2 separate regions of the Homo sapiens genome follow, and region 2 is linked to region 1. The links come from fine-mapping of genetic effects on gene expression. Tissue or cell type: whole blood. Region 1 holds a variant in brackets; the other region holds the start of a gene. All regions are shown on one strand. Distances are from middle to middle.

What was found.
Region 2: IRAG2 starts here. The variant in region 1 is fine-mapped to the expression of IRAG2 in whole blood (INTERVAL, PIP above 0.99).

The regions. Positions count from the first base shown.
Region 1 is chr12:25,094,517-25,102,864 of GRCh38, forward strand. IRAG2 (inositol 1,4,5-triphosphate receptor associated 2) reads left to right here. Exons shown (of 22, transcript NM_001366544.2): 15 at 2,394-2,528; 16 at 6,662-6,809; 17 at 7,682-7,725. Among named protein-coding and RNA genes, the nearest start is that of IRAG2, 46 kb to the left of the region's middle. The variant G/A (reference allele first, on the strand shown) is at 4,838.
Region 2 is chr12:25,047,846-25,056,193 of GRCh38, forward strand. It overlaps IRAG2 (inositol 1,4,5-triphosphate receptor associated 2), which reads left to right and starts at 4,861. Exons shown (of 22, transcript NM_001366544.2): 1 at 4,861-5,111. RefSeq lists enhancers at 4,216-4,325, 4,366-4,735.

The sequences.
Region 1 (8,348 bases):
TCCTACTTTTTCAAAAGTGTTTTGGCTATTAGGGTCCCTTTAGATTCCATATGAATTTTGGGATAAATTTTTCTATTTCTGCAAAGAAAAAATGCCATTGGGATTTTGATAGAGATGCCCTTGAATCTGTGTATCACTTTGGGTACTATAGAGAGCTTAACAAAATCAGGTCTACCAACCCATGAACACAGGGTGTCTTTCCATTTATTTGTGTCTTGTCTTCTTTAATTTTTTTCAGAAATGTTTTGTGGTTTTCGGTGTACATCTCTTTTATCTCCTTTGTTAGGTTTATTCCTCAGTATTTTATTCATTTTGATGCTATTGTAAAGGGAATGGTTTTCTTAATTTCTTTTTTGGAAATTGTTAGTGTGTAGAAAGACAACTAATTTTTTGTGTTAATTTTGTACCCTACAATTTTGTTGAATGTGTATATTAGTTCTAACAGGTTTTTTTGGTGGAATTTTTAGTGTTTACTATGTATGAGATCATATCATCTACAAACAGAAATGATTTGACTTCTTCCTTTCTGATTTGGATAACTTTTCATTATTTTCCTTGCCTAATTGTTCTGGCTAGAACTTCCAGTATTATGTTGAATAATATTGGTGAGAGTGGGCATCTTTGCCTTGTTCCTGACCTTAAAGGAATAAGCTTTCAGTCTTTCACCACTGAGTATAATCGTAGTAGGGTTTTCATATATAACTTTTATTAGGTTAAGGTAATTTTCTCCTATTTCTATTTTTTTAAATTAGCACTTCAGTGACATAGTAAAAATAATGTGTGGTTTTTTGCATCTTTTTGTTAGTATTCCTAGTTTTTGTGTTTTTTAATCATAAAAGTGTGTTCAATCTTATCACATGCTTCTTCTGCATCAGTTGAAATGACTATATGGTTTTTGTCCTCCTTTTTGTTAATGTGGTATATTATATTGATTGGTTTTCATATGTTAAACCACCCTAACATTATAGAAATAAATCCTACTTGTACATGATGTATAATCCTTTTTATGTACTGTTGAATTCAGTCTAGTAGTATTTTGTTGAGAATGTTTACATTAATATTTATCAGAGATATTGGTCTGTAGTTTTTTTTCTTTAATGTCTTTTTCTGGCTTTGGCATTAAGGTAATGTGGACTTCATAGAATGAGCTTGGAAGTATTCCTCTTCAATTTTTGGGAAGAGTTTTATGAAGATTGGCATTAATTCTTTAAATGGTAGAATTCCCCAGTGAAGCCATTCAGTCATGGATTTTTCTTTATTGGGTGATTTTTGATTACTGATTCAATCTTCTTACTAGTTATAGGTCTGTTCAGATTCTCTGTTTCTTCATGGCTTAATCCTGGTTGACCATACTCTGTTTTGCTAACAATTAACATCTGCTCTTTCCTTCCCAACTGGAGGTGGTGGTTTAAACCACTGTAAGAAACTGCATGTCTGACAATTGCCATCCTAGTTGGTTAGCAACTCTCTAACTACAACTTACACATATCTGTCTGTTTCAAAAGTGGTTATCCTTCATTGAGCACCAAATGTGCAACAGGCAGTTGGCATCTCTTACCTATCATATGACAGTATTTCTGGAGAGGATACGTGATTGTCCCCACTGGACAGATAAGGAACAGCAAATCAGAAAGGTTGATTTTTTTTGAACATTTCTAAAATTATGATGCAATTTACAGTCGGTGGTGCCTAATGGTTTTATTGACAGCCTTTTCTTTCTTAATGATATACAAAATCGTTGTATCTCTTATAATTCATGTTGCTTTAGATTTGGGAAAGTTTTAGAAATTTGCTCACAATCACACAGGTAATGAGCAGTGTCATGTCTGCTTCCAAATCTGTTATTCACTTAATCCTGTCTGTACTCTGGTGAGAAGGATGTTCATCAGGAAGGGCATCATATTGTGTAAAGGGCACAGGATTGAGAGGAAAATTCATAAGGCAATGAATGTATATTCACCTAGCCAGCCCAGTCATACCGTCAGAGACATTTTTAATTCCAATATGTTTGGTTACGTTTCTTAAAATTCCAACCTATGCTCCTTATATGATACATTCACCTCTTTTGTAAGCATAATCTCTTTACCATTACCAATTAATTGCAGCCCATCCTATTAGCTGTAGAAGAAAGATGTGGCAAATTTGGGAAGTAAAGAAAAAAGGGATCAAGAATAGACATAAAAGATTTGTGATCACCTGCGTATATCTACCCAGTACCCAAAAAAGATAATAATATATCAGTATCATTCATTATTGATCTTTGCTGCTTCTTTTCATCTTCCACCGAAATAATTGAGATTAGAATGTCATCCACATTTGCAACTTAGTCAGTGTTAGAATCACTCGCTGAATGCTTGTGTTAGATATCTTTTAATATGCTGTTTTCTATACAGTCTTTAACACCTCTGTGTGAAGATGACAACCAGGCACAGGAAATCATTAAGAAGCTGGAGAAGAGTATAAAGTTTCTTAGCCAGTGTGCAGCACGAGTGGCCAGTAGGGCTGAGATGTTGGGAGCCATCAATCAGGTAACCTGTCTTCATTTCTCTAGTTAGAATGAAATTACAAAAAAGATTCACTTTTCCTGAGACTATGGATTTCTCACTTCTAGGAATAAGTTTTAAAAAATACTTTTGTTGTATAAGACATATGCGTTTAATACATATGTGTTTAATACAGAAAAAATGGAATATACAAATAAAAAATGTTAAAAAAATATAATACGATCCAGTGACAATCATAAAATTTTTGTGATATATTCTTCAAGATGTATAGTGTTATAATATAGTGTTTATAATCCCTTATATAGTGTTATAATCTGCTTTTTATTCATCATACAACATAGGTAACTTTCTGTGTGATATAATTATATACTCACATGTCACCATTTTATGGTATTCTACTGGTTGAGTAGATATAAATTATTTAACCAATTCCTTGTATTCAATCATTTCAGGATGTTTTTGGTATTTTTCTGTTATAAACAATGCTCCAGTAAATATCCTTGTATATGCATCTGTGTGTATTTGTCCTTAGAGAAGTAGAATTCCAAAATTTCTTTGTGGGCAAACCTGGGGAGATATGAATTTTTTAAATCTATACCTAAGCAGACTTGTTAAAATATATTTTCTTAAGGAGAAATTTAATTGTGGTAGTAATTTTAGTTTGATCATTTGTTATATACTTTCACACCTTAGTTCCTTTTTAACCCCTCACTAGAGAATACTGTTATTCTTTGTTTCATTTTTACTAAAGTTATATATGCACATAGTTTTTTAAAAGGTCAATCAGCTCTATAAGCCTTACTAATTTCCCGTGATCCAGAGAAACAACTTTCAACTTTTTGTCTTATTTGTTTTGTATTTGCATTCACATTTTTCAATAACATGCTCATGCTGCCATTTAGTGATTTATTTTCAGTTTTAGGTATTATCTGTTGCTCTTCCACTACGAAGACAAATATTTAGTTCTTTTATCAATCTCTGGCCCATCACACCTTTTCACTGTCCCTCAAGCTACTGTTGGCCATCCTGCTTTCCTGGCCAAGCTTATACTCCACAGTTAAACATAGTTTTCACTACCTTGCATGTCCCCTCATCACTTACCCCTTTCTTGCTTTGTCTTACTCATTTGGCGAATCTACAAGTAAATCCGCTTCTCCACCTCTCATGCCTGCATAGCTGGAAAATGTCACATTCCCATGCTGACCTGTTTCTCTTTGAATTCATTATCACAAACCTCAAGCGGGTCCTTGGGGCTTCCCCTCAATCACCCTCCTTCTCTTTTAAATATCAATTTCCCACCCTTTCCTTTCTCCTCAAACCACTGTCATGTCTTTCCCCATATTCTCTCTCAAACACAGGTAATGACTGCTTCCAACCTCACTGAGGAAACTGGGACAATCAAAGGAAACTGCCACAAAGCCTCCCAGCGTGTGAATCCTTACACACTCCCTTGCTCTTGTTCCTAAAGATGCGTTGTCTCTAACCCTATCCAAGGCCAGCCTTCCCCACTGTAGATGGGAGCCTTCCCGACTAATTTACTCAGAGTCATGGGACCAAATTCTCCTGACTTTTCTCCATTTACATTTTCTCCACTCTACTGAACCATTTCTATCAGCACACAAATAATATGTTGTTTTCTAGATGGGAATAATAACACAAAACAAACACAAACAAAATAACTTTTTATCCTTTCTTTTCTGGCCACCACCCTGTTTCTCTGCTCCCATTTACAGCAAACCTCGACAGAATGGTACTCACTGTGTTCAGTCTCCCTCCTCCCACGTTCTCTCCAACCCACTCTGTATCAGCCTTTTGCTTCCACAAAGCAGATTTTTCCAAGGTCACTAGTGACCTCCACATTACCAAATTCAGTTTCTCAGTCCTCATCTGGCATGGCTGATGTCTTCCTCTTCCTGGAAATGCTTTCCTCACTTAGCTTCCAGGCACCATGTCCTCTAGCTTTTCTCTACATCACGGGCTGCTCCTTCTAGGCTTCCTGCAGTTCTACCCCTTCTCCTGGACCTCTGAATATTGAAGAGCCCCAGGACTCCACTCGTGCACATCTGATCTCCATGTGCACGCAATCCCCCTGTGATCCCTTGCAGTCACCTGAGGACTCTCAAATTCATATGTTTAGCCTAACCCACTCCCCTGAGCTCCAGAGCAGAGTATGCTACTGCTGACTCAACAGTTCCACTTGGATGTTTGATAAACTCAAACCTACCATTCAAAACTGACTGTTCATGGTCCCCCCACCAAACCTACCCCATGCATAAGCTCCTTACTTCACTCAAGGGCAGCTCTGTCCTTTTAGTTGCTCAGGCCAAAATAGG[G/A]GCAGAGGGAGCTGGGGTAATTCTCAACACCTTTCTCTCTCACTTCACATTAAATCCTACAGAAAATCCTATTGGCTGAATTGTCAGAATATATTCAGAATTCAACCATTTATTTCCCTTTCTACTGTTACCATCTTGATCTAAGCCTCCATTCTGTTTTGTCCAGATTAATGCAATAGGTTCCTATATGGTCTCCCTGCTTCCATCCAATTCCAATCCCTCCTCCCAACATAGTCTGTTCTTAATAAAGGAGCCAGAGTAATCCTTTTAAAATTAGATTGTGTTACTTTTTGGTTCAGCGTCCTAAAGCTCCTCAGTTTACTTGGGGTAAAACCCAATGTCTTACTGTGGTTTGAAAGGATGTGTGGCCGGGCGCGGTGACTCACGCCTGTAATCCTAGCACCTTGGGAGGCCAAGATGGGCAGATCATGAGGTCAGGAGTTTGAGACCAGCCTGGCCAACGTGGTAAAACCCCGTCTCTACTAAAAATACAAAAATTAGCCAGGTGTGGTGGCACGTGCCTATAATCCCAGCTACTCGGGAGACTGAGGCAGGAGACTCACTTGAACCCGGGAGGCAGAGGTTGCAATGAGCCGAGATCGTGCCATTGCACTCCAGCCTGGGCAACAAGAGTGAGACTCCATCTGAAAAAAAAAAAAAAAAAAAAAAAAATGGGCAAAAGACTTCAATAGACATTTCTTCAAAGAAGATACACAAATGGTCAATAAGCAGGTAAAAAGATATTTAACATCCTTAAATGTATTAGGGAAATACAAATCAAAACCACAATGAGATACCACTTCACACCCACGAGGATGGCTATGGTGAAAGAAGAAAGGAAGTAAGGAAGTTGGAAAGGAAGGAAGGAGGGAGGGAGGAAGCAAAGAAGGAATAGTGTTGGTGAGGATGTGGGGAGATTGCAAACACTGTACGTTGCTGGGAGATGTGAAATGGTCCAGCCACCGTGGAAAACAGTTTGGTGGATCCTTAAAAGTTAAACATAGAATTACCATATGACTCAGCAATTTCATTCCTAGATGTATACCCAGAAGAATTGAAAACAGGCACTCAGATACTTGTACACAAATATTCATAGGACTATGAACATTCCAGATGTTTCACTGGGGTACTCCTAATGTCATTAGTTATAGGACTTTTATCTTAGAATATTAGAATCCCCAGAGAAAAACCTTCCAACTGCCTGCCTTGAGGGTGTAACTCTGGCTGCCAGTGTTTGGAGGCTGGAAGGAGGAATAAGGCTGGATCTCAATATTCAATATGCATATAAGTTGTTGCTTAAATCTGTTGTTTTCAGCATGATAGATCCATCATCAACTATCTGTTCTTTCCCAATCCACAGAACCTCAAGTTAACTCTCTCTAGATATCCAACTGTATGTAGTCTTTCACCAAAATAGTGGAGGGAAAATTGCTGTGCTGGCCACAGTAAGGAAGGAGTCTCTGGACCTAATCTTTTTTTTTTTTTTTACACAGACTTTCAACCATTTCTTCTGTTCACATACCCACCATCAACCTTACTGAGGTGCAGTGTAGGTTGCTTCTAGGCTTTTCTTACTGCCTTTTTTAGGGTTCAGCTTTTCCAGGTCTTAGTCATTTGCCACTAGTCCTTCTATCCAGCTTTCAAAGTCTTGTTGTCATATTCTCTTCTGTTTGCCCCTGTAGATGCATGTCTTTTTAAAAAAAAAACATTTATTGCCACTTTAGTGGGATTTAGGAATGGAGTGAAGGTAAATGTGTTTAATCACCATCTTTTAATTGAGAGTAGTATTTTCAATGTAAATGTGCTCGTTTTTTCTCTTGCTAGGAAAGCCGGGTTAGTAAAGCAGTTGAAGTGATGATTCAGCACGTAGAAAACTTGAAGAGGATGTATGCCAAAGAGCACGCTGAATTAGAAGAACTGAAACAGGTTCTTCTGCAGAATGAAAGGTCTTTCAATCCTCTTGAAGATGATGGTAATAAAAGTTTATGATAATAGTATTAGTTGTGTTTTTCTACATTCTCCTCTTTTTTGCTAAGTCTTATTATTACTTCAGTATAATAAAACTCTTAGGTTAACTTTATATTAGAAAAATAATTCATTCCTGTTATTTATATAGCTAAAAGTGAGGTGTCAGAAAACAGGTTGGGACACATGAAGGATTCTTTAGTAATGACACCAAAAATTTATTAACTCAATTTAGATTACTGAGATGACAGAATATATTTAATCCAACTCATGAAGTTGACCTTAGTGTTCCCCTACTTAGGATACATTAGAATTTCTCCACACGTAAAAAGTAAGGATAAATAATTTAAATGGGCGCTGCCATCAGCAACGGTTTTGATTCCTCACGGAAGGAATGACCCTGGCACAGTAAGCTGATTGATGAACTGGAAAATAGAGAAACATATGAGGCCACGGGGAGTAACATATCGTTTCTATAAATCTTACAATAGTTTTATTTAAAATAAACAATATGAACTTTTCTGAGCAGAATTCTTATTTCAAGAATCTGTTCCCTGTTCTAGAACAGTAACCATATTTGATACTCTTCTGAACTGTACTTTTGGATTCCTTTCTCCAGCAGACACACATGTAGTGCCTACCCTGTGCTAGCTAGGCATTATGGACATCACAGTGACACAGAGGACTGTATTCCATTGGTTAAGATGGTAATTGTTATGAAGAATGAAATGAATGATAAACAGATATTTATATTGCTCGGTAGTCTCTAAAGTCTTAATATCTTCTGAATTTTGCTTTACCTTTAAAGAATTAAGACGTTGCTTTAACATAAATGGCATGTGTAATAGCTAAAATGTGTCAATGTGTTTTTCCTTTCAGATGACTGCCAAATTAAAAAACGTTCAGCTTCTCTAAACTCCAAGGTAATTACTAATTCACTTAACAAATGTCTAGCAAATACTATAAGACGGTTTTAAAATGTTATTTGAAGTTTCAGGCCTTTATATGTAAATAACAAAATAGTGATTTTAATTCATATAGATGTATTTGTTTATCTAAGTATGCTTTTATACTCTCTGCTATATTTTTGTATCAATTAAGTGTGCCTGGCAGCATGAAGAAAGTCAGTACAACAATGGTTTCTCTCTGTTGTGTAAAACTGAAGTTGGAAGTGGGTAACCCGACAATGGCACAGCAGCTTCACAAGATCCTGAGGGATCAGCCTCCTCCTTTCGTGCTGCCTCACTACCCTCAGCCCTTGGCTTCTGCCTCAGAGTCTAAGATGGCTACTTTAGATCCAGGCACCAAGCCCTCATCATTACATCATCTCATTCCAAGAAAAAAAAAGAAGCAATGACAAGTATTCCCTCTCCCTGTAAAGACACCCCCTAGAAGTCCAAAGTAACATTTCTCTTTCCATTCTTTGTTACGAATGAGACTGGAAAATACAGCGTGTATTTGGGAGGCTGTATGCCTAGCTAAAAATCAGGAGGCTTATTACTAACTAAGAAGGAAGAATGTGATACTGAAGGTCAACTGGCAGGTT
Region 2 (8,348 bases), 47 kb before region 1:
TTATCCAGTCTATCACTGATGGGCATTTTGGTTGACTCCATGTCTTTGCTATTATGAATAGTGCTGCAATGAACATACGCTTGCATGTATCTTTATAATAGAATGATTTATATTCCTTGGGTATATACTCAGTAATGGGATTGCTGGGTCAAATGGTATTTCTACCTCTATTTAGATCTTTGAGGAATTACCACACTGCCTTCCACAATGGAGGAACTAATTTATACCCCACCAACAGTATAAAAGCATACCTTTTTCTCTGCAACCTCACCAGCATCTGTTGTTTCTGGGATTTTTAATAATTGCCATTCTGGCTGGCATGAGGTGGTATCTTATTGTGATTTTGCATTTCTCTAATGATCAGTGATGTTGAGCTTTTTTTCATGTTTGTTGGCCATGTGAATGTCTTATTTTGAGAAGTGTCTGTTCCTGTCCTTTGCCCACTTTTTATTTTTTTATTTTTTTGAGACAGTCTCTCTCTGTTGCTCAGGCTGGAGTGCAATGGCGGGGTCTCGATCTCGGCTCACTGCAACCTCCACCTCCCAGGTTCAAGCGATTCCTCTGCCTCAGCCTCCCGAGTAGCTGGGACTACAGGCACACACCACCACACCCAGCTAATTTTTGTATTTTTAGTAGAGATGGGCTTTCACCACGTTGGCCAGGCTGGTCTCAAACTCCTGACCTCAAGCAATCCACCCGCCTCAGCCTCCCAAAGTGCTGGGATTACAGGTGTGAGCCACTGAGCCTGGCTTGACCACTTTGTAATATTTTTTTTCTTGTAAATTTGTTAAAGTTCCTTGCAGACTCTGGATATTAAACCTTTGTCCAATGGATAGATTGCAAAAATGTTCTCCCATTCTCTAGGTTGTCTGTTGACTCTGATGATAGTTTATTTTGCTGTGCAGAAACTCTTTAGTTTAATTAGATCCTACTTGTCAATTTTTGCTTTTGTTGCAATTGCTTCTGGTGCTTTTGTTGTGAAATCTTTGCCTGTGCCTATGTCCTCAATTTTACTGCCTGGATTTTCTTCCAGGGTTTTTATAGTTTTGGGTTTTACACTTAGTCTTTAATCTATATTGAGTTAATTTTTGTATAAGGATTGAGGAAGGGGACCAGTTTCAATTTTCTGCATGTAGCTAGCCAGTTCTCCCAGCACCATTTATTCCCATTGCTTGTTTTTGTCAGGTTTGTCAAAGATCAGATGGTTGCTGGTGTACAGTCCTATTTCTGAGTTCTCTATTCTGTTCCATTGGTCTATGTATCTGTTTTTGTACCAGTACCATGCTATTTGGCTACTGTAGCCTTGTAGTATAGTTTAAAGTCGGGTAGCGTGATGCCTCCAGTTTTGTTCTCTTTTCTTAGGATTGTCTTGGCTATTTGGGTTCTTTTTTGATTCCATATGAATTTTTAAATAGTTTATTCTAATTCTGTGAAGAATGCCAATGGCAGTTTAATGGGAATAGCATTGAATCTATAAATTACTTTGGGCAGTATGGCTATTTTCATGATATTGATTCTTCCTATCCATGAGCATGGAATGTTTTTCCATTTGTTTGTGTCCTCTCTGATTTCCTTAAGCAGTGGTTTGTAGTTCTCCTTGAAGAGGTCCTTCACTTATGGGGTTAATATTTAGAAAATATAAGAAACCCCTACAACTCCAGAACAACAATAAAAAAACACAAATAACTAGATTTAAAAATAGACAAAAGACTTGAATAGGCATTTCTCAAAAGAAGACGATAAATGGTCAAACAGGTGTACAAACATACTCAACATAACTAATCATTAGGAAAATGCAAGTTAAGACTATAATTAGATATTGTATCATACCTGTTAGGATGGCTATTATTTTAAAAGACGGCCGGATGCGGTGGCTCACGCCTGTAATCCCAGCACTTTGGGAGGCTGAGGCGGATCACGAGGTCAGGAGATCGAGACCATCCTGGCTAACAAGGTGAAACCCTGTCTCTACTAAAAATACAAAAAAATTAGCCAGGCATAGTGGCAGGCGCCTGTAGTCCTAGCTACCCGGGAGGCTGAGGCAGGAGAATGGTGGGAACCCGGGAGGCGGAGCTTGCAGTGAGCCAAGATTGTGCCACTGCACTCCAACCTGGGCAACACAGCGAAACTGTGTCTCAAAAAAAAAAAAAAAAAAAAAAAAAAGCTACTCGGGAGGCCGAGGCAGGAGAATGGCGTTAGCTTGGGAGGTGGAGCTTGCAGTGAGCCGAGATTGCGCCACTGCACTCCATCCAGCCTGGGTGACAGAGTGAGACTCCGTCTCAAAAAAACAAAAACAAAAAACAAATAAAAAAAAGTGTTGGTGAGGATGTAGAGATATTGGAGTCCTAGTGCACAGTTGGGGGAATGGAAAGTGGTGCAGGCACTATAGAAAATGTTATGGAGGGCCGGGTGCGGTGGCTCATGCCTGTAATCCCAGCACTTTCGGAGGCCGAGACAGGCGGATCTCGAGGTCAGGAAATCGAGACCATCCTGGCCAACATGGTGAAACCCCGTCTCTACTAAAATACAAAAAATTAGCCGGGCATGGTGGTGCGTGCCTGTAGTCCCAGCTACCCGGGAGGCTGAGGCAGGGGAATCGCTTCAACCCGGGAGCCAAAGGTTGCAGTGAGCTGAGATCGCGCCAGTGCACTCCAGCCTGGAGACAGAGCGAGACTCCGTCTCAAAAAAAACAAACAAACAAACAAACAAAAAAAAACAGTTACAGAGTTTTCTCAAAATATTAAAAATTAAACTACCATCTGATCTAGGAACCCCACTTCTGGGTATTTATCCAAAATAATTAAAATCAGCACCTGGAAGAGCTATTTGCATTCCCATATTCACTGCGGCATTATTCTCAATAGCCAAGATTTGGAAACAACCTGAATGTCCACGGATGATTGGATAAAGAAAATTTGGTATATAAATACAAGGGAATATTATCCAACCTTTAAAAAGAAGGAAATTCTGCCACATATGACAACATAGATAAACCTGGAGGACACTATCCCAAGTAAAATAAGTGAGTCACAGAACAACAAATACTGCACGATCCCACTTCTCTGAGGTATCTAAAATAGTTAAACTAATAGAAAGAGAGAGAATAGTGGTTGCCAGGAGCTAGGGGAGGGGAAATGAGGAGTTGCTACTCAATAGGTATAAAGTTTCAGTTATGCAAGATGAAGATGTTCTAGAGATCTGCTGTACAACATTATGCCTGTAGTTAATAATACTGTATTGTACACTTAAAAATTTGTTAAGTGGGTAAATCTCCTGTTAAATGTTCCTGCCACAGTTAAAGAAAAAGAGAGAAAAAGAGAGTGAGAGAGACAACGATAAGCTATTGAAGGACGCTCAGTGGAAAGTGTGGTGATGTAGGCAGTTTTTATTTTTGCTTAGGATTTTGTTTGCTTGTTTACCAGTATGGTAAGCATTCTGTGAGACCATTCTTGCCTCTCATGTGGTCCTTCGTGTAACCAGGGCTGGATTTGTGCCAGTGTGCAGTGGCATTCTGACTAAATGTTAACGTTTGAGAGGCATGCACAAGGCCTACGGCTGACAATGTCTTCCTTGCTGTTTTGCAACTCCCGACATTTATCACCACTTTGAGTTAAGGTCCATATTCAAGTCAGATTGTTTCCAGATAATCATTGAGGTACTGGCATGTAACACACATTAAATAATCTCATCTGCTAACAGAGAGTAAGTGCATTTTTACATGTTTTAGAGATTAGAATTGGATCCAAATGAGGTGTAACGTAATGGCACCATGAGATCTGTGGTGGGGAAGGGTGATGGGGAGAAAAGCTTCAGCAAAAAGAGGACTAAAGTAGAAATATCAACCGCCAGCTTTCATCTGTGCCTGGGGGCGGTCCTTCCTGTGCTCGTGGCACGTGTTTATACTATGATTGACAACCCTTAAGGAGAAAGGCTAAGGTCATGAAACAAAGCTCTCTTTCCTTTTCTTTTCCCTCCCCCTACCTTTACCCCATTCCTTTCTTTTTCTGTAAAAGCTAGCTGTGATGTGTAAATGTTGCACCTGTCACCCTGACCTCATTGTAGAGCCATCTTCTGAGTAACTGGCAACTGGCAACTGATGCTAAGTGCTATGAATGCAGCTGGTGGGAACTGAACACACCAGTGTAAAAGATGAAACTAGAAGTCCTTATCTGTAAAGTGAGGGTGTCAGGCTAAGCGACCAATAAGCTTTGCTTAAGATTTTATATTTGTGAAGCATTTATATGTAAATACTTTCACTTTTTCCTCTGATCTCTAAGGAAGTGGTGTTAAGTTTGAGTTTGTCATAATTTCACAGGGTGACTCTTAGTTGAAATGTCACTGACAGCTTGCGGTTTGGACTTTTTTTTTTTTTTTTTTTTTTAACTCCAGTCAGAAACAACTAGAAGCCATTAAACAACTACAGGAAGATGCTGTCAACCAGGAAGGCATCCTTAGGAAGAGGCTCCAAGAAACCAGCCAACGGCTGGAGGATGTGGAGGAGCAGGTAGGGTGGCTCATGGCTACATTAGATTCAGGGGACATCTCCTCAGATGCCCTGCAAACCATGAAATAAAAATGGAGGAGGAACAACAACAACAAACAAAAAAAAAAAGCAAAGAGGAACTGCAAGTTCAGTCCCTAGCGACTAACAGTGAGCAGAGGAAGTAAAGGGGGAGTTGTAAGAGAGGCGGTATCAACAGCCTGCTGATGAAAGAGGCGACTCTGCAGAAAGAGGCAACTTGACATATCAGGACTTTAACCGCTGTAGAAATAGCTCAGGCATACCAAGCCCATGCAAACACAGAATTGCAGAAGTTCAGGAGAGGCTTATCACTTCCCTGAGAAGAAAAACACATTTTCAGTTTTGCCTGCATCATAAGAGTGAGCACTCCATTGCTTTCTTTCCTGGCCACACTGCTACAATCCAGCACTAACTATCCATGTCCAGGGTAAGGATCGAGATCGAGAAGCCCACACTGCCAGTGAAAAAGCTACGTCTTTACTGCATAAATTAGAGGAAGCAATTTCGGAACAACGGAACCTTCAAACTATAAATACTGAATTATCGAACACTTGCCAGGCACTTCAGCAGAAGACAAGGAAACTGAAGAGTGAGTAGCAAATATTCATTTATGACCCAGTTTTTGTCCACCCTCAGGCGGGGCATAGGACTACAGACATTTTTCTAGATTACAGCTAGGATATTATTCCTGAGTTTATGACAATGAAATGGTTTGAGAAGGCAATATTGTGGGGCTTTCAGAGAGGTTTGCTGAGTGGCTAGGTGCATGCATGGGTTTAACCATTAACTTCCCTTTTTGCCTTTTTATTATAAGCTGGTTTTGTCTGTGGCTGTTTTTTTCTTTTAAAATTAATTAAAACTTCTCAAAATTTCTAAAAGTAAACAAGGAGAAAAATCTAGTATGCATGGTATATTTGAACTTGCAAGTTGTTATATATTATACTCTGATTTTATTAGCTAGTTTTTTTCCTCTCATATGGTAGAAAAGGCCTTGCTCGTCTATTTTCTTTGGAAATTTTAGGGGGTTGGGCAAAATAATTATGAATTCAGTGTATATCAAAATATCAAATGTGTGAAAATTCTTTTAAAGTTTTAATGCATTCTCTACATACATCTACATACATATTTTGCATTTTAAAAATTGGAATATTTGTCATTTTTCTGTATTACCCAAAAGTATATAAACAGTTACCAGAGATTTATGTGAGAAGACAGTTGTCACATTACAGATGTCAGATTAGCTATAAAATTGTTTCATTCTAGAAACCTAATATGGTAAAAATAAACCTTACTTATTTAGCCATTTATCAGACAATTGCTTTTGTTCAGCCAGTTTCTTGTTCTAGCAGTATAAATATTCTTTTTATAGAAAGTTACTTGGTTTGAGAAATAAACATTGTTTATTTGTTAATTGTTATATAATTATAAATAATTATATATTTAATATATAAGCTTAAGGTAGGCTAGAGATGAAAAATTTCAGACTTGTGTTTGTTTTGGATTTATTGTACCCTTTCTACTATTATCTGAGAAAGCTATTTAGGAGTTTAAGAAATAGTCTAGTTTTAAAATAGCAATGGTTTGCCGGACACAGTGGCTCACCCCTGTAATCCCAGCATTTTGGGAGGCCGAGGTGGGCAGATTGCTTGAGCCCAGGAGTTTGAGACCAGCCTGGACAACATGGTGAAACCCTGTCTCTACAAAAATTACAAACAAATAAATAAATAAAACATTAAAATAGCAGTGGTTATTCAACATATTATTGTCATAATTTTTAAACCTTTATTGAATTTGCCAGTTTTCAATATTCTGATTCACTCTGTTAAGCTAGTAAGGCAGTCTTTAAATTACACAGTCTGTGTGTTATTTTACTACTGCTCAGAGGGCATTGGAGAAGGTTCCCTTGTGATTAGAACTGTTCATGTTGAGACATGAATCATAAGGCATTCCAAAGTTGGTTTAAGGTGTGTCTGCTTTAGACACTGTGCCCAGGACTATTCTTTTGCTCCAGTTTTGCCTTTTGATTAAATCAATATTATACCTGAGTTTTATAAACTACTAAGAATTTGTTCCCCTTCCTCACTGTGATTTTCTTGCAGTATTTTCTTAGAAGAGTCAACTTTAATAACTTACCCCAAAGTGCACGTTCTTGATATTATGAACTTGCTATTGTTGTCTTCCCAGTTTATCTTCACGGCCCAATAGATTCAAATACACTTAAAAGCAGAATATGAAAGCTGCCCTGGGTTGATACGTGTATTTTTTTCTGCCTGGATAACGTAGAGTGGACACTTCCTTTCTGTCTTGAGTTATGCATAACCTGTCCAGATTTATGAAATCCCTTACTTGTTACTTGTATCTTTTGCTGCCCAAAAAACCCATACAAATCAGGATTTTGCTTATATGACCATGTACTTACGATCTTTCTAACAATGCCCTTTAAATTCAATCTTTGAGAGAAGAGGGAAATTTAGATAGCACGTATTTTCAAAATGTTCTATATAGCAGATGTTCCAGATAGACTGCAAACAAATGTCAATGACTGCAGTTATCACACAAACACGTCCACGCACATCCCGCCATGACCACTGCCACCCCATGCTGTTTGATTTCTGAGTCAGACATCTGATTCTGAGTCAGAAAACAAAACATATTTATATCTATTTAGCTTTTCTGAAACTCTCTGGCTAGTTTAATAAATTCACAAAGTATTTCAGACAATTGTTTTCTGATCCATCTAAGTTGCATCAGCACATTGTGTGGGGATGCAGCTGGTTTGTCCAAATGTTCAGATCAATGTGCATAATGTTCACACTACAACTGGAAATTTATATGTGATGTTTGATCAGAAATCCTGAACTTTATCTTGAATAAATGATATTGTTCAAGTTTTCAATTGCCTTCAGGACTGGGCTGATTTATGAGGCAATTCATGTGCATGATATTCTTCAAGAAATGTGCCATGAAAACTGTTCAATTGCTTGAATGGTTACTTATATATTTTATTTCTTCTGCATCTAAACTTTGTTTATATCCAAGTATCTTGTTAATAGACACATGACTGGATTATAATTAGTGTTTGCTTTAAAAAGGAAATTTTTTTTATTATACTTATGTTCTAGGGTACATGTGTACAACGTGCAGGTTTGTTATATATGTATACATGTACCATGTTGGTGTGCTGCACCCATTAACTCGTCATTTACATTAGGTATTTCTCCTAATGCTACACCTCTCCTATCCCCACCCCATGACAGGCCCCAGTGTGTGATGTTCCCCGTCCTGTGTCCAAGTGTTCTCATTGTTCAATTCCCACCTGTGAGTGAGAATATGCAGAGTTTGGTTTTCTGTCCTTGCGATAGTTTGCTCAGAATGATGGTTTCCAGCTTCATCCATGTCGCTACAAAGGACATGAACTCATCTAAAAAGGAAATTTTTAAAAGCTTATAGGATGTGTATATAACATATTAGGGTGAATCTTATGTACAGAAATCATGGACTAATTGATACAATCCAAAACTATCACCCCCTTACTATTCACCATCTCTTGTTCCCATCTGACGTGAAATCTTCATGGAGTCAGTCTTCTCATAGACAATGAGAGAATTACCTTTAAGAATCACAAATTTTTCCTTGAAAAGAGATCCTGGGAAACTCTGATATAGCATAATTTCTTATTTGAACGTAGTATCTGCACATGAACTTCCTAGTTTAGAGGAGACTTTCACCTAGATAATATCACTGCAAACACTCTTTTAGCTTGCTATTCTTAGCATGGAGGGCGGGAGGTATGGCAGAGGTAAAACCCTTAGGGCTTGGAGCATGG